Linked DNA regions of Homo sapiens: region 1 is linked to region 2. The links come from fine-mapping of genetic effects on gene expression. A gene starts in region 2. The other region holds a variant in brackets. All regions are shown on one strand. Distances are from middle to middle.

Evidence for each region. PIP is the estimated chance that this variant, and not a neighbour inherited with it, causes the effect.
Region 1: its variant is fine-mapped to the expression of LINC02995 in visceral fat (GTEx, PIP 0.91).

What each region holds. Positions count from the first base shown.
Region 1 is chr5:173,618,101-173,627,308 of GRCh38, reverse strand. No RefSeq gene overlaps it. Among named protein-coding and RNA genes, the nearest start is that of BOD1, 6.1 kb to the right of the region's middle. The variant AAGATGGTGAAACCCC/C (reference allele first, on the strand shown) is at 4,991.
Region 2 is chr5:173,570,374-173,586,297 of GRCh38, reverse strand. It overlaps LINC02995 (long intergenic non-protein coding RNA 2995), which reads right to left and starts at 6,664. Exons shown (of 4, transcript NR_027108.2): 1 at 6,616-6,664; 2 at 5,923-6,069; 3 at 2,390-3,020; 4 at 1,230-2,188.

The sequences.
Region 1 (9,208 bases), 44 kb before region 2:
ATGAAGAGGAATGAACTGTAACCTCCAAAGAGCTGAGTGACAGAGTGACATTAGGAAGGGTCTCAAGATGCCACTTTACCTTGTTATGCCAACTGCGATTCCACAGCTGGATATACTCATGCAAGCTAACACTTGACAATAATAACATGGTAAACTTGTACTGGGGGTCTTGTTTTATCATTCCTGGAACTCTCTCAAATACATTCTCTTTCAAATGCCTTCCTCATATCCACCCTAAAAATAAGGTCTTTTAGTCACTCTATTCTACAGATAAGGGAAGTGAGGCTCACATGCCCAAAAGGTGACCAAGTCTGACCAGAAGACCCTTGCTTGCACTGGGCTAAGATATACAAGGCCTGCCCCTGGAGAAGCAAGTTTGAGAAAAGCAAGGGAAGGCAGGTGCATCTTGCCAGTTTCTGCCCTCCCTTCCAGCTTCACATTGACCTCTAACTGGCAGTACTGCTCCAAGGCTCTTAGTTGCAAGCAACATAAATGTATTCTGGGTGATTTAAGCTGAAAGGGAATTCATTGAAAGATTCTAGGTAGCTCACGGAATTGACAGGAAGACTGAAGAACTAGGCTCAGGAAATAGGTAAGAAAAAGGGCGGTCTCGCAGCCAGAATCACAAACAAAACTCTTGCTCCAGAACCAGTCCAGTGACATCATTGCTGCAGCTGCTACAAACACAGGGCCCCTGTCATTGCAGCTGGAGCACTGTCCCTTCTGGCCATGGCTGTGCACAGAGCTGCAAAGGAGGCTGGGAAAGTGGGTATCTGGTATTTTCTCTACCCATAGGAAGGCTCTGCCACCTAACAAGCCTCAGGGGGTACAGAGTTCCCCCCAAATAGGAAGGGCATTGAGAGTTGAGATGCCAGGTAACCAAATCTCAGGCAAATGTGCACGTATCAATCAGGTTAGGCTCAGTAATGCTGTAGTAACAAAAACATCTTAAATCTGAGGGGCTTAAAAACAACCAAGGGTTATTTCTGGGTCACGCTTACATGTCCAGCAAGGGGCTCCATTCCAGGACTTTCTTAACTCAGACCTCAGGCTGCTGGAGCCGCCTGATCTCAAATATTTCCCACAGTCACCATGGCATTGGGAAGGGGTGATTAGAGCAGCAATTACAGGCTCCCAACCAGAAGTGACATATGTCACTTCCACGCATGGCTCACTGGCCAGACCTAGTCACATGGCCCTGCCTTGGGGCCAGCAAGTGCCGTCTTGCCTCAGATCTGGAGGGCAGAGAGCTGGGGAAATCTGGCAAGTAGTGTTGACAATGCCCAGGGTCCACTGAATGGGGCCTGCCAATCAAAGCCCACCTGGAAAGGGAACAGAAGACAGAGCACTGAAATGGAGGTAGGAGAGCAGAGTTTCATTCCTGGTTGAGCCCCTGAGAACTGTACATGTATCTAGCAGCACCTAGGGGCTAGAGGAAACCCTTACTTCTGGGTGTGGCCCCAGAAGACACTCTGCTCAAACTGCAAGTGGCAGCAGCAGATGTTGGAAGCACAGCCCACGAATGAAGCACTGGAGGGCCCAGAGTAAGGGGAGCTGGGAGCCAAGCCCAGCCTCTTGGAGCTCAGGCAGGCAGCCTTTTTCCTGCCTACAGGCTCCTGAGCCACTGTCTCCTAAGGAAGATGGGTGCTTCACTGTAGCCCCAGGCTCCCTCTGGAAATAAATCCTCTTCTTGTAACTGTCTGACAGGCAGCAGGAGCCAGGATGCCTAGAATATCCACAGGCTTCTTGGGCCCACACTTTGTTTTGGTTGCAGAGAGATGACAGGCCAGGGTGTGTCCCCAAGAAGATCCGGGGGAAGCGAGGCACTGTGAGCTGGATAGTGAGTGGGTGGGAGGCTGACTATGGGTCCCTTGGGACATGGAATGTCCTCTAAGAACAAGGTTGAAAGTACAATTTGCCACTTGTTTATTTGTTTTTAATGTGGCTGAAACATCAGTCCCTCCTCTGATACCTTCAGAAAGTCAATCAGTACCAAATAATCCAGGTGCTGAGATTCGTATAAAAGCCCCTAAATTTAAAAGAATACAGTAGAGGCAGGACTTCAATGCAGAGGTGAAGAATTTGAAGAAATCATGGAGGGGGTCAGGATTGGCCTTCTGCAGGACCTAGGATGGCCATGGGGAGAGGTAGGTTGGGAGGCAGTGAGCAGGCTGAGCCAGATCTCAAGGAGCAGTGATGCCCTAGCCAACACCCGCCCCATGAGATGATCCCTGCAGCCCCCTCTCTGGTCTCCCTGCCTCCAGTGTCACCCCATCCACTCACACTTCCGTGCTGTCCCAGAAGAATCTTCGTAAATTTTGTATACTATGCTGCTCCTGCCCTATTGAAAAGCATTGTCTTTACTCCAAGGTCAAATTCAATCTCTGAAATTGCAGCATTTGAGGTCCCAGGCTACTTCATCACCCTATCTCAAACACATGCTCTGCAACCTCCACGCAGCTCATGGGACCAGCCCCACCTTTTCAGAATATACTGATACCCTTCAAGCCTCTGAGCTTTTGCTCAAACTCTTCCTTCTTCCTGGGGCCCTGAGCCACTCCTTCCTCCACCTACTTACCCGGGAAAGGTTCTTAGTTGTAACAGAAATGAATTCTGGCAACTTTAAGCAGCAAAGGTATGCAGGATAGAATATGAGTGACTCTCAAGATCTCTGGGAAGGCCAGAGATTCAGGCTGAGAGACTACAGGGATAGGATCCACACCCACATCACACCACTGGAGATCCTGTAGAGACGTCACTACCCTGATGCTGAGACAGACACGACATCAGATGCCTCCCATGCTGCCCACTCAGCTATTACACATCTCTGTGGGACTTCGCCCTGGCCCCTGGGAAGGCTGGCTGCATTCAACAACAGCCACCTGTGCCCTGAGAAAGCTTTCTGAACTCAGGAGTCATAAAATCTATACGCATGTCCCTCCTCACCCCGGCATGGCCCCTCCCCTCTACAGCAAATCACCACAGCTGAGTCCCTTTTCTTTCTAGAATCATCATGGGAGCATGGTCTAGAGCCTGGCCCTTACCAGGCATTGTCTCATATAATTCTCACAGCATCCCTGTGATGTAGGTTCTATTATTGTCCTCATGTCACACACAAGGAAAGAGGCTCCAAGAAGAGAGAGAACCTCTCCTGGTGGTGGGGCCAGGATTCTACCCCAGACCTATCTCTGAAGGCCACAATTCTCCTGATATGTTATAGCAGGAGGAACCCAGGCTTTAGGTATCAGGCAGTCTTGTTTGAACCCTGGCTTCAACACCAGGCAACTGATGTCCCTTCTCTGCCCCTTAGTCTTCTCATCTGTAAAATGGGAATAACATCTGTTTGCCTTGCAGAGCTTTTGTCTCAACTAGAGGTGATGGGAGTAAGGAGGGTAAGGACCAGGTATGTAGAAGGTGCGTAATAAATATTACTTCCCTTCCCCTGGCTGGCACCATCTGCTGTTCTCCTCTCCCCATCCCCTGAATCTCTAGGATTTCAGCTGCATTTTCAGAAACATCCAGCACATGCTGGGGCCTGCTCAACCCTCGGAAATGAAAGGGATTCCCACGAGCATCAGCTCAGATACTTCTGCTTGCCTCTGACACAGCCTGGCCACAGAGAGGTGGTACCTAAGCCACACCCAGCCACACCTGAGCCACACCCAGACACCCAGAGCTAGGCTTCCCTGTGCTCTCTTGGCACAGGATGTGGGAAGTCCTTGGATGAGATTGGATGGCAGGAGAGCTATTCCCCTGGGCCTCACGGTCCAGAGTCCTCAGATTTAGATATTCTCTCCAAATAACGCTAAACATGCAATTGCAGATAAATATTGGCAGGAGCAAAGGAGACATTTGTCCGCAGCTTTAAACTTTGTCCCATCATTATGCCCCAGGGCGTGCAGCACACGTGAATGTATACACATAATACATATTGGCTGGGTGCGGTGGCTCACGTCTGTAATCCTAGTACTTTGGGAGGGTGAGGCAGGTGGACCACGAGGTCAGGAGATCAAGACCATCCTGGCCAATATAGTGAAACCTTGTCTCTACTAAAAATACAAAAATTAGCCAGGTGTGGTGGTGTGTGCCTGTAGTCCCAGCTACTCAGGAGGCTGAAGCAGGAGAATCATTTGAACCCGGGAGGTGGAGGTTGCAGTGAGCCGAGATTGTGCCACTGCACTCCAGCCTGGGCGACAGAGTGAGACTCCATCTCAAAAAAAAAAAAAAAAAAAAAAAAAAAAAAAATATATATATATATATATATATATATATATTCTTCATTATCTTAGAAGTAGCACAATCACTCATCACACTGTATTGTATGCGTGGCAGCAGTGGAATTGTTAGATTGTTCAATGTTGTCTCTCACAGATCTACTACTCTTCTGATCACCCTGTTTCAGCTCCTTTCTTTTACAGGCAAGAGGTGCAAAGGCCAGAGAGGATACATTGCCAACAAAGGTCGTAGAGCTTGACTTTTGCATTCAAGTAAATCTTTACCAAAGGTATTCAGTTTTAGGCAGAAGTGGCCAGCCAGAAACAAGCAGGCAGGATGGGAGTAGGAGTTGAGGAGAAAATGATTTCGAGAAACCCACGTGCCGAAAATAATCTCTCTTTCTGCTCCGTTGACGGATCTGATGTTTCTACCCAGAGAAACAACAGTTCCCCACCCTGGCCCACTCTCAGAACCCCCTTGAAAACTTGCTTAAAAATGTAAACGGCTATGGCCTGTCTCTACAGATCCATTCTGTGGGTTTGGCAGGATGACTGAGCACCTGTATGTTTTGACGACGTCCTCAGGGAATTTCAACAAACACCAAAGTTAAAGAAGGACTGACCTAAGCTGTCTCAAAGAGTTATAGAGTAAACTAGGTTGAGTCACTCATAGAAATTATCTGGGCCGGGTGTGGTGGCTTACGCCTGTAATCCCAGCACTTTGGGAGGCCAAGGCGGGTGGATCATGAGGTCAGGAGTTCAAGACCAGCCTGGCC[AAGATGGTGAAACCCC/C]GTCTCTACTAAAAATACAAAATATTAGCCGGGCGTGGTGGCACGCGCCTGTAATCCCAGCTACTCCAGAGGCTGAGGCAGAGAATTGCTTAAACCTGGAGGGGCGGAGCTTGCAGTGAGCCGAGATCACACCACTGCCCTCCAGCCTGGGCGACAGGGCGAGACTCCGTCGCAAAAAAAAAAAAAAAAAGAAAAAAGAAAAAAAAAAGAAATCATCTGAAGGCACAGGGCCCTGGGGAAGAAATTTGATCCACTCATGCATTTATTCACTCATTAGCTTTCATATTTGGTCATTCCAAAAGTGATGGCGTTAGTGGAGGAATGTGCTCAGGGTTGTATCAGGCAGGATAGGCTAGGTTACGCCACAGTCAAAAACAACTCCAAATCTCAGTGGCTTAAAACAAAAGGTCTCTTTCTCACTCATGTTACATGTCGGGTTATCTGGGGCCTCTGCTCCACATCACCTCACTTTGAGGCCCAGGATGATAGATTAGCCATCATCTCAAATTTTCCTGGTTACCACGGCAGGTGGAAAGAGAGCTCTGGGAGGTCTTATGTTGGTATGAAAATGGCCCGGCCTAGAAGTGACACAAGTCACTTCTGCTCACAACTCTTTGGCCGGAACTAGTAACATGGCCCCAAATAACCCTCAGGGTGTTGGTTCTTGAGTGCTGAACCTCCCTGCAGGAAGAAGGAAGGATGCTACAGCAGGAAGGAGTGGTGCTTCTATCAGCAAGGCAAAGCTTTCCCAGAAACCCTCAGTTTCTCTCTCCTCAGCCAGAACTGGGCCCTACGGTCACTCTTAGCAACAAGGAAATCACAGATGTATATACTTTAGCCAGATGTGCTGCAGCCCCAGACAAAATTGGATCCTGTTTATAAATTAGGGGAAATGGATATTGGGTAGGCAACTAGAAGTAACTGGGGGCAGAGGAAGTGTTGCTAGAGAACACCAAGTGTGAAGACAGAGGTAGAGGATGGATCCAGACCCAGCAGCAGTAGCATGCAGGATTTGGCCATGAACTTGGCTTCACTGAGTCCACCACTTTAGAGACTGGCTGAGTCAATCCCTACGTCATCATAAGATTGAAACTATCAAACTAATACATTTATTAGTGTTAACTCTAGATACACATTAGCCAAGACTTCTGCCCAATAATAGGCTACAATTAAATACATCGGGTTGTTGTATCAAGTCCACATTATTAGTTATTAGCTATTGAGGGCCTACTCTGTGTCAGGTTCTACACAGATATTGTCTCTAATTTTTGTGACAGTTCTTCAAGGCAGGTATTACTATCCCCACTTTACAGATGAGCAAATGGAGGCTCAGACTGGCTAATGGATTGCCCTAGGTCACACAGCCAATAAGCAGAGGGGCTGGATCCAAACGTAACCCAAAACCCAAACGTCTCACCTTTTTCTCTGTATTGTATCAGGTTTCCTCTTTCACTATACATCCTCTATTACTAATAATTTGACATGACAATGTGTTAAAAACACTGTAGCATGAAATCTTGTCCAAGATGCGTATTTGGTTGGAGAGATGCTAGTAGTGTTGCTTGGTGCTGGGGATTCCTGTGTATTAAAGCCCTGTTTTTGTTGTTTTTGTTTTTGTTTGTTTTTTTTTGAGACGGAGTCTCGCTCTGTCGCCCAGGCTGGAGTGCAGTGGCGCGATCTCAGCTCACTGCCAACTCCGCCTCCCAGGTTCACGCCATTCTCCTGCCTCAGCCTCCTGAGTAGCTGGGACTACAGGCACCCGCCGCCACACCCGGCTAATTTTTTGTATTTTTGGTAGAGACGGGGTTTCACTGTGTTAGCCAGGATGGTCTCGATCTCCTGACCTCATGATCCGCCTGCCTCAGCCTCCCAAAGTGCTGGGATTACAGGCGTGAGCCACTGCGCCCGGCCCCTGTTTTTCTTCTTAATGCGTATCAGATCCAATCTATCATTAGAGATGCTGGAAAACATCAAAAGGAAACAAACAACAACAACAAAAAAGCAGGGATCAGATGGTGCAGATGTAGCCAAAATGCTATAGACAAGGCAATCTCAAGAAACTCTGGATGCTGTTAATTAAGAAATGAACAGCTGTCCAGACTAAGAATTGGCAAGACTCCTTGGATGAATAAACATAGGTAAGAAGAAAAAGAGCCACCTCATGATCACAAAGAAGGACCAATAACTAGTCTACCCCAAGCAGCTTTGGTGTCTAAATGCAGCCCTGGGCTCAGTCTTAGGGCTCTGGAATGCTCTCGCTTCAGGACCAGGATCTTCGATTAGAAGGTCGGAAGGTTACCAAGGCAACTCCCAGATTATCTTCTAACCTTGGGCCTGCTCCAAGCCCCAGACTCTTAGTCCAGTTTAGTCATATATTATGGACAGATTCCTAGATTGTACTTGACCCCTCTGAATATTGACTATATTCTGACATTTGGTCCAGGGCATTATCAAAAGTCTTAAATGGCCTTATCCTATACCTAGAAGAGTAAATTTCCCATTCACTCATCCTTTATTGTTTTTCATTCATCCGTCATATATTTGTGGAGAGCCTGATGTCCCAGGCACTGTTCTTGGTGCTAGGGATGCAATGATGGTTGAAATGGACAATCCCTGCCTTTGTGGAATTTAGAGGCTAAGAGGAGAAATAGAAGTTAATTAAATCACCTCCTGACCCAAATGTAAATTCATGATGATAATATGTTATTAAACATTTGCTAAAGACCAGGAATTGTGCTAAAATGGATTGCCGAAATGGCACTTAAGCCTCTCCACTGTCCTGGGGAAACTAAGGTTCAGAGGGATGATCCAGCTTTGCCAGCTGGGATTCCAATCCAGTGTCACCTGATGCAAAAAGTCCATACATGTGACTACTTTCTTATATCTCCCTTGGCAAATGATAGATCTCATTTCTTTTCCAGTTTCAGTGAGGTCTAGATTTGGGCTTGGGGAAGTTCTACTTTTTCATGTGGCCTTCAACAAAAAATATTCCAGCACCTAAAATGCGTAATTCTTTGGGGTCGGGCAACTTATTACAGACAAGTTTTAATACTGAGAAGCAACAACAATTTGCTACGTGAAGGATACCTGAAAACCAGATTACTACCTAAGCCAAAGTTAAAACAATGTTCCGCACAGCCATTTCCGAATGTTTTGGATTATTAATACAGCAATGGCGCTCTCTGATGACTGCTGGTGTGTATTACATGTCTCTTGAAGGGAAGAATACATTTTGGATGTTGTGGAGGCCTCCTATTCCACGGTTTGGATAAATAATAAGCCTCCCTTCAGCTTGATCATCTTCACTCCTCATCCCCTTCCCCTTTTATCCCTCATCATTTACTTTGATTGCAGAGGGAAGGTCATGGATACAGAATGCAGCCTTTTGTCAATGTTCAGAGACCCAGCAACCAAGACACAGGTCCCCATGACAGATAGTGAAATTGTCACAGTGTGAACCAAGTGCAGACAATCTCCAGGATCACTTACCTATTTAAGTCATGACAGATTCATCCATCATCTCCTGCTAGAATGCTCCTTCTTTTCTGAAGATTATGGCTACACATAATCCTACCCACGCACTCTGTGATGCTATCCCACAGCTTTAGGAAACAGACAGGAATTTATACATTCTCTTTGAGCTAAGAACTATCGTGCTAAGAGCTGGAGACACAGTGATGAACAAGTCGTGGTCCCCATTCTAAATATTACACCCTATCAGGGGACTCAGGTGGCCAATTTGTCTGTAAATCATTCACTTCCAATTATAATAATTGCTACAAAAAATGAGGCTTTGAGTTTCTGTAGCATGGAGGAAATATCTCATTGGATCTAGGGGTCAGAAGAATTTTCCCTGAGGAAGGAGAGTAAGATGTGGGGTGCCAAAAATGGAGAAGGGACTAGTCAGAGTGATCAAGGGCTTGCAGAAGAAAGAACCTGGGGCTGAGGCAGCCTGAACTGGGCTTCTCCTGGGGTTAAAGGTGAGTGATCAGTGTAGAGTCAACCAGTAGGAACAGACATTAGGTAATCTCAAGGATGGTGAGCTATTAAGAGAGAATGTTTGTCATTAACTGACCCATTGTGAATGATTGAGCTGGTGTTAGAGGATGAGTATAATCCAACACCTGAATGTTTCTTTTGAGGGTTAATTTAAACTCTCTTGGACAGGTGTGGTGGCTCACACCTGTAATCCCAGCACTTTGG
Region 2 (15,924 bases):
TGATGCCCTGTGTCCCAGCTGCTCCAGCCATGACTAAAAGGGCCAAGGTACAGCTCAGCCTGTTGCTTCAGAGGGTGGAAGCCCCAAGCCTTGGCAGCTTCTATGTGGTGTTGTGCCTGTAGGTGCACAGAAGTCAAGAATTGAGGTTTGGGAACCTCTGCCTAGATTTCAGGGGATGCATGGAAATGCATGGATGTCCAGGTAGAAGTTTGCTGAAGGGGCGGGGCTCTTATGGAGCACCTCTGCTACAGCAGTGCAGAAGGGAAATGTGGGGTCAGAGCCCCCACACAGAGTCCCTACTGGGGCTCTGCCTAATGGAGTTGTGAGAAGAGGGCCATTGTCCTCCAGACCCCAGAATGGTAGATCTACCAACACCTTGCACCATACTCCTGGAAAGGCTGCAGGCACTCAACAGCCCATGAAAGCAGCCAGGAGGGAGGCTATACCCTGCAAAGCCACAGAAGCAAAGCTGCCCAAGACCATGGGAACCCACCTCTTGCATCAGCATGACCTGGATGTGAGACATGAAGTCAAAGGAGATCATTTTGGAACTGTAGGATTTGACTGCCCCACTGGATTTCAGACTTGCATGGAGTCTGTAGCCCCTTTGTTTTGGCCAATTTCTCCCATTTGAAATGGCTGTATTTACTCAATGCCTGTACCCCCATTGTAGCTAGGAAGTAACTAATTTTTTTTTTTTATTTTACAGGCTTATAGGTGGAAGGGACTTGCCTTTTCTCAGATGAGACTTTGGACTGTGGACTTTTGAGTTAATGCTGAAATGAGTTAAGACTTTGGGGGCCTGTTGGGATGGCATGATTGGTTTTGAAATGTGAGGACATGAGATTTGGGAAGGTCCAGGGGCAGAATGATATGGTTTGGCTGTGTCCCCACCCAACTCTCATCTTGAATTGTAATTCCCACAATTCCCACATGTCATGGGAGGGACCCAGTGGGAGTGAATTGAATCATGGGGGTGGGTCTTTCTTGTGCTGTTCTCATGATAGTGAGTAAGTCTCATGAGATCTGATGGTTTTATAAAGAGGAGTTCCCCTGCACAAGCTCTCTCTTTGCCTGCTGTCATCCTTGTAAGATGTGACTTGCTCCTCCCCACCTTCCACCATGATTGTGTGACCTCCCCAGCCATGTGGACTATAAGTCCATTAAACCTCTTTTTCTTCCCAGTCTCAGGTATGCCTTTATCAGCAGCATGAAAACAGGCTAATATATACCCCCAAAGTTAGATACTTTATCATATTACAGTTGTGTGGATTTGGATTTGCAGGACTCAGCTGGTTGATTCTCTTGATGAATGTGGTGCCAACGGAGGTCACTCCATGGTAATCAGCCTGTAGGTGTGCTGGGCTGGTCTAGAGATCCCAGGATGGCTTCACTTACATGTCTGGTGACATTGGCTGGTGGGGGCTGGCTGCAAGGCTGGGCTCAGCTAGGACCACAAACAGAGCTCCTGAACATGGTTTCAGCAACCTGGTGGTATTAGGGCAGTTGATTACATGGCAGCTTCAAGCTCCCAGAGAGTGTCCTAAGAGAGGTGAAGTGAACTGCCACCCTCTAAAAAGCCCAGGCCTGGAAACTGACAAGCACCACTTCTGCTGTATTCTGTTGGTCAAGTAGTCACAAGCCTGCCCAGGGCACCCCACCTCACCTCTCCATGCAGGGAGTGACAAGGAATTTGGGACCATCTTCAATCCACTACAGTCCCCATTCTCCACTTGCAGTCCGAATTCCCCCACAGGCAGCCTTTCTGTGTATCTGATGTGCGTCCTTGAATTTGAACATAGTGTCTAACGTAAGCTACCTAAATCTGTGTGGACATCCCCTTCCTTGCTTCTGACTGATAGATGCTTCTCCAAGGTGTACACCCACCACATTTACTTCTGTCTTCCCCAGGGATGGGTGCCTGAGTGGCCAACGCCCCTGCCAGAAACAATGCTGAATGAGCACCTCCCCACATGCCCCTTTTGGACAAAAAGTGTCTCTGCGCCGCATACCGAGGAGTGGCATTGCTGTGGGCAGAAGACTTACGCAGTCGACTTGAACCAGCACCATCAGACAGCCTCCGGAGTGGCTGCACCTTCTCATACTCCCTTGCAGAGAACAAGGGTTCCTCTTCCCCCCCTACTCCAGCTAACACTTGGCATTAGCTGACTTTCTAATTTTTGCTGACCTGATGAGTGTACAGAGTAAAGTTTCATGTTGAACTTTTAAAACAAAGGGGGAAAATACAGAGGGAAAAGAATAGGAAGGAAAGTGGTTAGGAGGGAAGGAAATGGCAGCTGGCTAAGTGGGAAGAATTGGGAAGTCAAGTTTTCTGGACTGCACAGTACCCTACAGAATCCTAGGGGCCATCAGAGCAGCTGCAGGTCACCTTGTGGAAAAGTGCAAAATACAGTTTAGACATTTGGAATTTGGCTTCCTGGCAGCCTGGCTGGAAGGTGTTGGTTCCACAGGGCCAAGGCTGGCTGTGCCTGCCTCCCTCTGGGTCCTGGAAGCTGAGGGAGGTGGACCAGCCTCCAGCTCCCAGGTTCTTATGCTCCTCCTATTTATCTCTCAGTCCTTTCCTGGCAGCCAGAGAGTCCATCTTTAGCGGGGACCTGTACAGTATTGTTTTAATCTTCAGCTCTCTCTGCTTCCTCTCTGTTCCCTTCCTCCCTTCCTCTTCTCCTTGTCTACCACACAGAACAGATGTGGAAAAAGCCAGGCCTTTAGGAACATCTGCTGAGACACCAGCTGCCTTCCTCCTGGGCTAAGGAAACTGTGACCCCTCTGATTATTGGGTTTCATCCAAGGACCTCAGTTCTCTGGCCAGAATATTTGCATCGAAGTCAGCAAGGTCTTCTAGCTATTTAAGAGAATTTGCTAAATCCCTGAAGATCTGTACATATAGAAGGAAGGGAGAGATGCTATTTTTTAAACATTGGCTGCAGTTGGAGCTGGCTGGCCCAGAAGTGCAGAATTCCCAATGCTTCCCAAGGAGCATGCATCACTCTCGGAAATACCTGGACACATAGGAGAGGTATAGGAAAAATGAGTTGAGTTGTTCTGATTAAGAAAGGAACTGCAATTTGGAACTTGATCAGCAGCTGCATGCTGACTGCTAGAGGAAGAAGGGTTTGTTTCTGTTTTTGTTTCTTTGTTTTTTTGGGAGGGGACAAAGTGATTTCTGAAAGAGAATGAGAGGGCCTAGAAGTAAAAATGAGGCAGAGGGAATTGGAGGAGGAAATGGCCAGTGATAAATTCCTCCTAGCAGGAGTTCCCCGCCCAGATGGGGACTTCAGTGTAGAATCATTTACTTTGGGGATGACACCTCTTGTTAACTGCAGACCTGCAGGAAACATCTGCTAAACTTGACAGCTGTGAGCTGCTGGTGGTCATTGAAAGACCAGCATTAAGTTGACAGGCAGAAAGAAAACACAGTCCCGGGGGAAGAAAGGAATGAGATGGGAGTGCTCAGTGTGAACAGGAAATCAGAGCCAGGGATGACCAGTAAAATATAAGCCCTGGGGGAATCTAGAAACATCTTGGAAAGGGCCCAAGGCTTTTCCATAACATGTGGACTGGGAGGCTCTCGGGAAGGACCCCAGACTGGTGAACTTGGGAATATGCAAGCTGAAGGCATCTGGGATACACGAGTGGGTGCACACACGCACATGCGCACACACGCACATGCACACTCACACGCACACATGCACACACTGCAGATCCCCTAGAGTAGTGGTCCTCAACCTTGGCTGCACATTTGAATTGCCTGGGGCTTTAAAAAATGCCAGAGCCTACCCTCACCCCAATGCCACCAAACCAATGACATCAGAATCTGTGGGAATCAGACCCACACGTCAGGTTTTCAAAGCTCCCAGGGCTGAGCAGCATTGTTCTACAGCCTGACAGCTCCAGCTGCCTGGAGAGCAGATGCCATTTACAGTCTCCTGCAACCAAAGACTCGCCTGAACCATCGTGCCCTTCCATCACACACCATACCCAGGCCTTCTCCCTTCCTTTCTCACCACCTCCCCTACCCGCTTCCCAACAGATCTCCTCCCACAGTCACAAGATAAGACACAGGCGCCCAGTGGAATTTAAGCCTGAGAGAAACCACAAATAATTTTGTTTAATATAAGTATGAGTTGTGTAAAATTAGTAGATGTCATGCAACATACTCATACTAAAAGTTATTTGTGATTTCTCTAAAATTCAAATTTAACCAGGCATCCTGTGTTTTTAGTTGCTAAATCTGACAATCCTAGATAGAGACAACTTAAAAACAAATAGAGAGTGTCCTTCCTCGACAAGGGACAGAGATCTGGTACCACCACTAGCACTAGACCCAGAGTCAAAGCCCAGGGCTCCTGGGCTGAGGCCCCTGGGAGAATCAGCAAAGCTTTTCGCCTTCCCCACACGTGCTGTGGGCGCGCAGTACTGCAAGTTATCACCACCAGAGGGCGCACTCTGAGTAGGCGGGAGGAGCCCGCAGGGACAAGACCCCAATCCACAGATGCTTAGAGAGACAGTGAGGGCGCAATCCCCAAAGGAGCATTAGTGTTCAACTGGTGGGGTCCAGGGACATTTCTTCCTCTTCTAAACTAAATGATCCCGAAGACACCTGAGATTCAATGAGAGAGAAGGGTGAGCCCGGGGTAGAATGGTAAGACTCAAAACCTGGCAGGTTTCTTTTACAGTGATTTATTGCTTTGATTTTTAAAAATTGCACAAATAAAATAGACCATTCAGAATTAAACGTGGAAGTCCTCCTTTTAATGTCCCCATTCACCTGCCTCGCATGTGTGTCATGGATCTTCCTAGATCTACTTCTACGCACGTGAGTGCGTGTGTGTGTGTGTGAGTGTGTCTGTGTGAGTGTGTGTGTATGTGTGTGTAATATGGGTTTGTTGGTTAAATTCTTTACACAAATCCCATCAGAATATGTATGTAGATAATTTCTAGAAATTTCTTTTTTCATCTAATAGATTTTGAGGAGGATCACTCTGTGACATAGGCAATATTAATTTCATTTACTCTTCACAATGACCCTATGAGGTAGGGGCTAGTGTTATCGTCCGTTATACAGATGGAGAAACTGTGACACAGAAAGGCTAAGTGAGTTGCACAAGATCACACAGCAAGTAAGTGGCAAAGCTGGGATTGAAACCTAGGCTATCTGGCTTTGGAGCACGAATGCTTAATCACTCTTCTGCAATACTTGGCTTTAACCACTGCATCACAGTCTAGCCTAGAGATGGACCATAGTATATTTATAACCACTGCCCTTTTGATCCATATGCAGGCTGTGTCCAGGGTTCCACTAGTATAAAAAAGGATGCAGAGAAGAGCTTTGTGCAGCAGCCAGAGGGGTTCTTGCAGGGTAGTGGCCCAGCTGTGGAGTATGCACAGGTTACATTCCAATAAATACTGTTAGATTTTATTCCCAAGAGGTTGAAACTTTCCCATTCCCAGCAGTTGTGTTAGTGTGCCCATCCCCCTTGGTGCCATCGAGGGCATGCAGGCAGAAGGAACAGCCTGTGGAGAGGGGCGTGGATATGGTTTGGGGAATGGCAAGAAGTCCAGTGAGGCTGAAGGTTGGGTTGTAGTTGCTGGTTGCGAATGTAATCTATTTTATGCTCTGCAAATTTGATACACGATACCACGATATTTCATTGTAGTTTTTGTTTGCATTTCCCCAATTACCAGGAAGCAATATCATCTTTTTGTGTGTTTATGAGCCATTTGTGTTTTTTCTTCTGTAAACTTTATGTTCATATTTTTACACTTTCCCAATGGGATGTTTATCTTCTTGGTTTGTAGGTGCTCTAGTATTATGGGATGTTAGTCTTTTGTCAGTTACATTTGCACGAATATTATCTCATGGCGTGTTGCTCTTACAAACTCAAGTTTTTAGATAGTAACCTGGATTGTCAAATGCGACAAGACGGTTTCTCAGTCACAGCTGTGGAATGTGTAACGAGACAACCTCTCTGAAGGGCAGCTTGGTAATAGATACCAAATGTGCTTTAAATCGTGTACACTTGCTGATGCTGGTATTCTATATCCATCCTAAGGAAAGATCAGGGATAAAGACAGCAAGTTAGCTCTGAAGATGGTCATTCCAGTTTTGTTAATGATGTAACAATTTGAGAACCTTTACATGTCCAGTAATAGCGCATTGGAAAAATCAATTACATCTTAATCACTGGCAGGAATATAATGTTACCATGAAAAAAGATGCAATAAAACTGTGTTTTTGACTGTACTAGTAAATGAAAAAATTGATAGCATGAAAGATTTTGTCCAGTATTATTCCATTTTTGTAAAAATGTTTAAAGTTCAGGCTGATAAGATATACCCCAAAATGTTGATAATGATTTTTCTCTGCATGGAGCTATTATGGGGTAATCTTTACTGTCTTATTTTTGCTACTCTAAATTTTTTTTAAATTTCTACAAATAATATTAATTACTTTTATAATAAATATATATTTTTAAAATTATACATACATATATATATACACACACGTATGCATATATTTATACCTAATTTTTTCTTTTGACTATTGGTGGTAGACAGCTCCCAGATGATCCACAGGCCCTCAGTGAAACTTACCTCCTGTTATTCATGCTTTTGTGTCCTCTTTTCTCAAACTGAATCAGAGCTGGTCAGTGTTACCAGTAGAATACTGCAGAAGTGATGGTGTGTCACATCCAAGGCTAAGTCATAAGGGCATTGTGACTTCAACCTTTGCTCTTGGATCACTTGCCCTGGGGAAGCAGCTACCATGTTGTGAGGCTGCTCAAGTAGCCTTGTGGAGAGGTCCACCTGGAGAGAAAACAAGGCCTTTGCCGCAGCCGGCACCAACTTGCCAACCATCTGAGTCAGCCACCTTGGAAGTGGATCCTCCAGCCTCATTCCAGCCTTCAGATGACCACTGTCCCAGCTCATATCTAGACTGCAACCTCATGAGAGACCTGGAGCCAGAACACCCAGCTAAGCTGTTCCTGAATTCCCGACTCACAGAGACTGTGAAAGATAATATATGTTTGTGTCTGTTTTAAGTCACTAAGTTTTGGCTGTTGCCTAACAGTAGATAGCTGATATAAAGCTTAGTACCAGAAGTGGGGTGCTGATGGAACATAAACCTACCAATGTGGGAGCGTCTTTGGAACTGAGCAGAGGGCAGAAGCTGAAAGGACTTTGAAGAAAGTGTCAGAGAAAGCCTAAAGGGCACTGGAGAAGCCAGTAGTGGGAGGAGAATGTTGGTGAGGGTTTATAGGAAAGTGAGAACAATGCATTAGAGACTGGAAGAAAGGTGATTCTTGTTATGGAGAGGCAGAAATTAAGCAACACTGCAACAAGATGGAAAGCTCATAAATTGAATGATCTAGCTAAGGAGACTTTTAGGCAAGCCCAGATATTGGGCTCTTCCACTAAGAGTATCTTGCTACAAATATAAAAGAACCAGAAAATGCAGCCCTGCCCTTGGCCTTGGCCTCTGGGCGCCATCTCACTCAGTAGCATGAACTGTGCCCACTGGCCTCCTTGCAAGTGACTGATGCAGAAGGTGGAGAGTTGTCATGCTTGCTGGTTCCCAGGATGGTTCTCAGAAAGCTTGGAACTGAGGTGGAATCATGTTCGTGTTCCTCCCAGAGTATAGAGCAGTTAGACTCTCGGTACATTTCTGGAGAGAGATGGGGGTGAAGAGTGCTCAAGGGAAGAATTGAATCAATGCTCCCAGCACTCCACCCTGCCCATGGGAAGTCAGGTTGCACAGAGGCTAACCTGAAAACTCAGTCACAATGCTCCCTGGATCTGATCATATTTAGGGTATACTTTGGGGTGCCTGGGCCCCTCAGCAGGTGGGTCTGGACAGAGGCTGCACACTGCAGGTTCCTCCCATGTTTTTCTTCCTAAGGATGGAACCACTCACATGCATGATACTCACACACATGACACTCACACGCATGCCGTCTCTCCTTGGGATACCTGACGGTCTGAGCTTTAAAGTAATTTACCTTTATTTACCTGTAATGAACATTCGTCCCGCTTTCTTCTTGTCCAGTGCTTCAAACATCTTTTCTTTGGGGAGCTCCTGCCTCCTCAGTCCCTGACTGTCTAGAGGAGCCAGAAACTCTATTTCTCAGACAGGAGGGTGCAGGCATGTGACCAAACTCACCATACAGATGTACCTGCACCAGACTCAGATTCAGAGCCAGGGGCTCCAGGACGAAGCAAGGTCCCATGGGCTCCACCCTGGCGGGGAGGCGACATTGGAAGCCCCTTTGCAGTTGCCCTACTCAGGGCAGGCTGCCGTGTTGTTTCCTGGAGCTGCTCTGCAGTAGGTGGCACGTTTGGGCCATATTCTAGAGCCCAGTTCCCAGGTCATTCAAAAGATGCTGGGGCCCCCAAGTAGCCAGTGATAAATCCCATTTCTGCTTAAACTCAATACAAGTGGTTTCTGTTGTTTGCAACCAAGCCTGCCTGAGGCCTTCTACTGGCGCTGCACCTTTGCAAGGGAGACATTTGGTGTGATATATAACAGCAACTTTGGGACGAATTCCACTCTACCAGACACAGCTGGGAGCAGAACAATCCCAGATACCTCTTCGGGTAAATGGACCCCTAACTAGGGAAATGCATTTTTTAATGTGCTTTTTAAATCACTTGGAATGCCCTGACCTCCCCACCTCCTCCTCTGTCCCACTCGGGTCCACCCTCCACATCACGGCCAGTGTGATCTTTCTCCACAATGATCTGGTGGTGCTACTCCCCATGTGACACCTGCGCTGGGTGTCTCTGTCCCCACCCCATCTTCCTCCTCCCTGCTGTGCCCACCCAGCCATGCCATGGGGACAATCACTCTTGCTCTCTGGCTTCAAGTGGGGTTTGGCCAATGGGAGCATGGGCAGGCCCTCACAGGGCAGGAAGAATGGACTTGGACATCTGTTACCCCCGGTCCTTCCCTGCCAGGTTACCACAGGTAGGCTGTGTCCCTTTACTGCAGACTCATATGTGCTTCTCCACACAGCCACCCTCTCTGGGTTCTGATAGCCACTCCCTGGCCTCCTCTCTTCGGGTCTAGGGGTAGGCACAGCTCCCCAAAGAGACAGTAGCACCTCACAGCTGTGTCAGTCCCAGGCATGCTCCATGCTCTGCTGGCTTCCCTAACCCCGTCCACCCCTTTGCAGACAGCGTCTTTATCAACCCACACTTCAGTTACCCATCTTAGTGTGTCATCTGTGTCCTGTTAGGGCCCTGGCTGAGACAACAGCCTTCACTCAATGTTTAGGTTTTGTGCAAGACGCAATTCCTTCAGGACTAAGCTGAGATTTCAAGACCCTATGAGATCTGGCCCCTGCCAGCCTTTCCTGCTCATCTGTCCTTCCCTGACTATGCCAGGCTTTCTCCCTCCCTGCCTTTGCCACTCCACCAAGGCCCTCACCCAGGAGCACCCTCACTCTTCTGGCCTGCCGCTGCAGAGATGTCTGCTCTAGGCAGCTGTGCAGGCCAACTAATGCCCACCACAAAATGTCCATGTCCCAATCCCTGGAACTCAGGAATGCTACCTTCTATGACAAAAGGAACTTTGCAGGTGTGGGTAAGGATGTGGAGATGGCAAGAGTGTCCTAGATTATCCAGATGGGCCTTAAATGTCATCACAAGTGTCCATAATGAGGGAGGCTGACGGGCATTTGAGTGCAGCAGGGAAGGCCGTGTGATGTTGGGTGCAGAGGTTGCAGGGGTGCATTTTGAAGAAGGAGAAGGGGGCTGCAGGCAAGGATGCAGGCAGCCTCCCAAAGCTGAACAGGGCCAGGAAGCGATTCTCCCCTGGAGCCTCCGGAAAAGACCAGCTCAGATGACACCTATAGCCAGGGAAACTGATTTCACACTTAACGACCTTCAGTGTCATAAGAGAATACATTTATGTTGTTTTAAGCCACTAAGGTAGTGGTAATCTGTTACAACAGCCATGAGAAACTAATCAGATGCCTTTCCCAATCCCAGACTGGGCAGGCGGACCCCTCTGAGTTTCTGCCACCCGTACTCACTCTGAGTGGCACCTGTCAATCCGTATCAGACCTGCAGTTTACCTGTTGATCTTGCCACCAGATCCCGAGGCAGGGGTTGTGCCTTTTCATGTCTGTTTCACCAGCACCTGCAGAGAGCCCAGCACGCGGTGTGGCATAAATGAAAAGTTGAAGGACAAATTGCATACTTGGCATTGTCACTCACCAACTGAAATTCCACAAAGCAGGGATGCTTACTTATGATTTTCAGGAATCTAATAAACTCTTCCTGGTGACCCATCAGACACCAAAGTGGGCTCCTTGGACACTGGTTGTCGGTTTTCTACGATGCTCCACTGGGACTGAGTCAGAGCTGGACTCCTGTCCTCCTGTGACTGAATTAATTCCTCTGATACAGCCCCCATCCTCAGGGTCCCAGGGAGTGTGAATTTTGGGAAGTGTCTCATATAGCATGGAAAGTGGAGCAAAGGGCCTGGGCATGTGCACGCCACCGCTTTCTTTTCTCTCTGCCCCATTTTCTCCTTTCTATCCCCGCCCCCCCCCGCCCCGACATTCAGGGACAGGGACTGCAGCTTTGTCCCTGCCCAGAGCTCCCCTATCACGCGCTGGCTGAGGCTGCAGGGTGTGCAGCCTTCTCTGCACGCTTTGCCCTCTCGGTCCCAGCATGGGGACTGGGCAGGAGGCCCACAGCTGCTCAAGGGGCTGGGGGAAACTCACACAGCGGCTCTTCCGCCCTCCCTGCACTCCTTTTCTGAACACCTCTCCTGCCCATCCCCCCTCTCCTGTCATGAGAGTGCCCAGTTCTGCCACCCCACTCAACTCCAGAGACCTCAGCCAACACTTCCACCAAGAATGGGGTTGGGACCTGCAGGGCTACCCCTTAAGGCCCTCTGGTCCAGCCTCCACACCCATAGGTCACCAGAGGACTTAACGGCTTCAACCACTCCCCACCGCAGGGCTCCTCACTGAGCTTCCAGCAGGGCCGCCCTCTCCTGTCCCTTGCACTAGCCTGGGAAGTCTTTGAGCACAGCCATCAGCAACTTCCTCTTCATGTTCCCAGGGCCTGGAAAGGGGCCTTGCATATCAATTTGCTGAAATGTATCAGGGTAGGGGCTGGGGGCACGGTTCAACTCTTAGCAAGGCAGCTGGGGGACCTGAGGTCGCAGGGCAGGAGCCGTCCTCACGCTGAGTTTCTGTTTCCTTCTGTGTAGAATATGGCTAGGGAGGAGTCCTGCTTCGAAGGATTGAGAAGAGATTGAAATAAGAGCTCCCAAGGCAAATTGAGAAGTGGGGAATGTGCTTCCATTGAGAAAAATGAAAGACAGACCCTATCGGCACCTCCCCTATGATTGAAAGAGGAACCTCTGGGCAAGGCAGAGGAGAGACATTTGTGCTTTCATAGTTTGTAGTGGGAATCAGCCAAAAAAATGCTAAAAAGGATGGTATTATTGAGACAATTGGTGAAATTTGAAGAAGGTCTGCAGATGAGATAATACTATTGCATCCATGTTAATTTTCTTGATTTGAACAACTGTACTGGATTATGGAAGATAATGACTTGTTTTTAGGAAAGACCCACGGAACTATTATAAGGGGGCATTATATTTCAAATGGCTCAGATCTTAAAAGTATGTAGAGACAGAGCAAAAATTATAAAGCAAATGTGGCAAATTGTTAACAACTGAGGAATCCTGCTAAAAGCTATGTATTAATAGAAGGTTTTTGTGCCATCCTTGCAACTTTTCAACTAAGTTTGAAATTGTTTCAAAATGAAAGTTTTCAAAAACACTTAAAAACATTTGCAATATGTTCATTCATACTGTTTGAATCTTGTTCGGTGAGAATACATTCATGCGTTAATAGAGTGTTGCGTGTTTTTTTGTCTGTCTGTCTGTTTGTTTGTTTGTTCTCAAGACGGAGTCTTGCTCTGTCTCCCAGCTGGACTGAAATGGCGTGATCTCGGCTCACTGCAACCTCTGCCTCTCGGGTTCAAGCGATTCTCCTGCCTCAGCCTCCTGAGCAGCTGGGATTACAGGTGCCTGCCACCACGACCAGCTAATTTTTTGTATTTTTATTAGAGACGGCGTTTCACCAGTTGGCCAGGCTGGTCTCGAACTCCTGACCTTGTGATCCACCCACCTCAGCCTCCCAAAGTGCTGGGATTACAGTCGTGAGTCACCGCGCCCGGCTGAGTGTTGCGTATTTTTAATGATTGAACTGACACAGCGTGATGGTTAATTGTATGTGTCAACTTGATTGGGCTCAGAGATGCTCAGGAGCTGGCAACGCGGAAATACATCCGGCATTAAAATAAATGCAATTAAAAGTAAAACACCAAAAACCCCACATTATTTCTAGGTGTGTCTGTGAGGGTGTTTCTGGAAGGGGTTAGCGTGCATCCGTGGACTGACTGAGTCAAGATCGCCCTTCCTTGTGTCGGGGCGTCCTGCAATCTGCTGAGGGCCTGAAGAGAACAAAAGGCAGAGGAAGGGTGAGTGCCACTCTTTCTGCTTGAGCTGGGCCGTCGGCTCCTCTGGTTCTCGGCCTTTGGGCTTGGACTGACCTACTCCACTGGCTTCCCTGATCCCCTACTTGCAAACAGCAGGTCGTGGGACTTCACAGTATCCTCAGTCATGTGAGCCCATTTCTGATAACAAACCTCTTTCTGTCCATCTATACATGGCCTACTGGCCTGCAGAGTCCCGAGTAATCTACACAGTAGGCGAAACCTTGTGGGCTGAAAATCACAAACTGTTAAATATTATTATATTTGTCATTCTACTTATTAATATGATTGTTATAATTATTGTTGTTGACATTGTCAGTAGTTTGAGGGGTGACTGGCAAGGGGTGGGTTGTCTTCGTGGTGGCCGGGCAGTTCATTTTCTCGCCTCTGCATCCTGGATCCCGGCCCCAGGGCTGCTGCTCCCGGCAGGAGCCATGGCCCAAGGAACTCTCGACGGTCCGCAGCTGGCGTTCGGCAGTGACCCTTTTTCTCCACTAGAGGGCGCGCGCGACGCCTCGTCCATGCCGCCGGGCTCCACGGAGCCTGAGCTGCGGGCGCTGAGCCGCGGGAAATCCACAGACCCGGGCTGCAGGGAACCTGGCAACTGCAAATGAAGACAATCTGGGGTCTCTGGAACCCAACTCGGTTCTCTGCTCCGTTTTATTCCCCCGCATAGTTGGCTGTTAGCTTGAGGATGGCATTGAAAATGCATACAATTCAATAATTAATTCCAGACTGGATCTGAGGAAGCACAGTTAAGTTAACCAATGCGGACCGCGGACTCCACACCATCAAGGAGGGCTGCCCAGAGGTGGCAATGGGCAGCCCATGGGTCAGATTTTGCCCCCAGATATCCTTTGTTCAGCCTTCATGGTGTCTGAAAAAACAGAATGCAGAGAGTTTAACACTGAGTTTTTTAAACTTGGGAGAGTTCATATAACACCCAGATTCCTGTTGGTTTTTTTCTTACAAAATAAGGTAAAAGACACCCACATCCCCCCATGACAACACCTCCCTCTCTCTAGAGCTGTGGAGCCAGCCATTGCTCCCCCTGGACTGGGCATACACTCTCCAGCTCACCACAGTCCTCACCCTGGCACCACCTCACTGGGTTATGTCTCCTGCCTGGCCCTGCAGGCATCTGGCTTTGCCACCTAGACCACAGGAAAACCTAAATTATCCAGATGCCCTGAGAATGGGCCAGTTCCCATCAATTACATTTTCTGGTCAACTACCATTTTTAAGAAAAAATCCTTGAGATTGCAAGGCTTTCTGGGAATAAATTTTTAAAAAATTATGTAAAATGTTGCCTGCCTCCCTGTCATCATTACAACCACTGTGGAAAAGGAGGCATATGCTTGAGGCTGTGTGACCTTAAACAGTCACCCAACCTTTCTGTGCCTGTTCTCTTGCTTGTAAAATGAGGACTTTAATAGCCTCATCAAATGCTTTGAGAATGAGGAAGACACTCCATGTCAAAGCACTTAGCAGAGCCCCTGGCACATAGCAAGAGCCAAATAAGCGTTTACTATTATTAGTAGTAATTACAGGTTGAGCATCCCTAATCTGAAAATCCAAAGCCTGAAACACTTCAGGTCCCAAGCCTTTCAGATAAGGTATACTCAGCCTGTATTAATCACATAGGGTAGCTGAGTACACGGGGAAACTAGGCCATAGTTCTTAAACTTGGGTGCATATCAGAGTCACCTGAAGGTCATGTGGGCACAGAGATTGCTGGGCCCACCTCAGAGTTTCTGATTCAGCAGGTGTGGGCTGAAGCCTGAGAATGTGCATTTTTATCAAGTGCACAGGTGGCTGTTGATATGCTATTTGCATGAGCACACTGACTGTCTTAGTCCATGTTGTATTGCTGTAGAGTGATACCTGAGCCTGGGTATTTACCAAGAAAAAAGCTTTCTTCGGCTCATGATTCTGATGTCTGGAGAAGTTCACAGTTGGGCATCTGCATCTGGGGAGGGCCATGGGCTCCTTCCATTCATGGCGGAAGGTGAAGGGGAGTTGGTATGCAGAGAAAACGTAGTGAGAGAGGAAGTGAGTGGGGAGCCGGATGCCAGGCTCTTTAACAACCAGTTCTAGAAGGAATTAGCCAAGCAAGAATTCACTCCAAGGGAGGGCATTAATCTATTCAAGAGGGATCTGCCCCCATGACCTAAACTCCTCCCATTCACCCCACCTCCAATATTGGGGATCAAATTTCAACATGGGGTCTGGAGGGGACAGACATCCAAACCATGGCACTTACTAATTTCAAAAGTGTACCTACACATTGACTTGATTATCTGCAAAAAAGTCAAGGTAAGTATTTAAAGAGTAGACATGTATAAAGTACTTAGTACAGTGTCTAGCAAATAAGTGTTATAATTATTATTCATAAAATTGGGGATAATCAGGAAAAATCTGAAAACGAAAACTAAAGAGAAGGTTGTAGGGAGAAGCAGCTTTGGGCTTTTGGGCTAAGCGGTTGCAGGGGTCACCCTGTTTTAATCCCCTCTACAAGCCTATGGAGGAAGAACATGTAGGGAAAAGAGTTCTCAGAAATGAAGAGCCCATGCTAGGTTGCCCAGGTATGAGGTACCAGTGACCTCCCCAAACCCAGGTCTTTCTGCCTACATAGGGGCTGAGGTCTTCCCACTCCTCCATGTTCGTCTGAGCTATGGCTAATTTGAGTTTCAACACTTGATCTGGAAGTTCCTCTGTCTGGAGTATTCTACAAAAGGCCTGCACGCCCTGGGGTCCAAGAGCAGAATTCAGGGTCATGATGCAGTCACGGAAGGACGGCCGTGAGGGCCTCACGGGACAGGAAGGAAAGGAGGTGTGCAGGAGAGCCGAGGCCGCAGGTGGCATGTCACGAAGGAAGGCGACTGGGCCAGGAGCTGCACAACTGCAGCTGACCCTGTTCTGGGGCAGGTTCCCCGCATCACGTGTGTCCCTGACCCGCCCCAGCCCTTCACCTCCAGGGTTAGCGGAGGGCAGAGGCTGAATGGGCAAATAACCCCAAGTCATCCCCAAATCTAAATGGACCCAGGGTTTTGGAGGAGCTCATCCTAGACCCCCAAAGGCTCAAGCCTATTTCCAGGGACCGCAGGATCGGATGTGCCCCAGGTTTGTTCTGCCGCCTGGCCAAGGATGGGTGTTCACAGCAGGTAAAAACAGAGCCTGGGTGTCACACACCATGCAAGGGTCCCTCACAGCATGTGATGCAGCCAGCATGAGAAGAGAAGTGGGCTGCCCTTGGCCGAGATGACCCTCCCCACGGGGCCACGTTCCAACCAGAGATTCAAGACGTCTAACAACTTGGAATTTGAACCTGGCCTTCCCGATGGTTGGAAAGGCACATTTGTTAAGGGAGCCCTTAAGACCTAT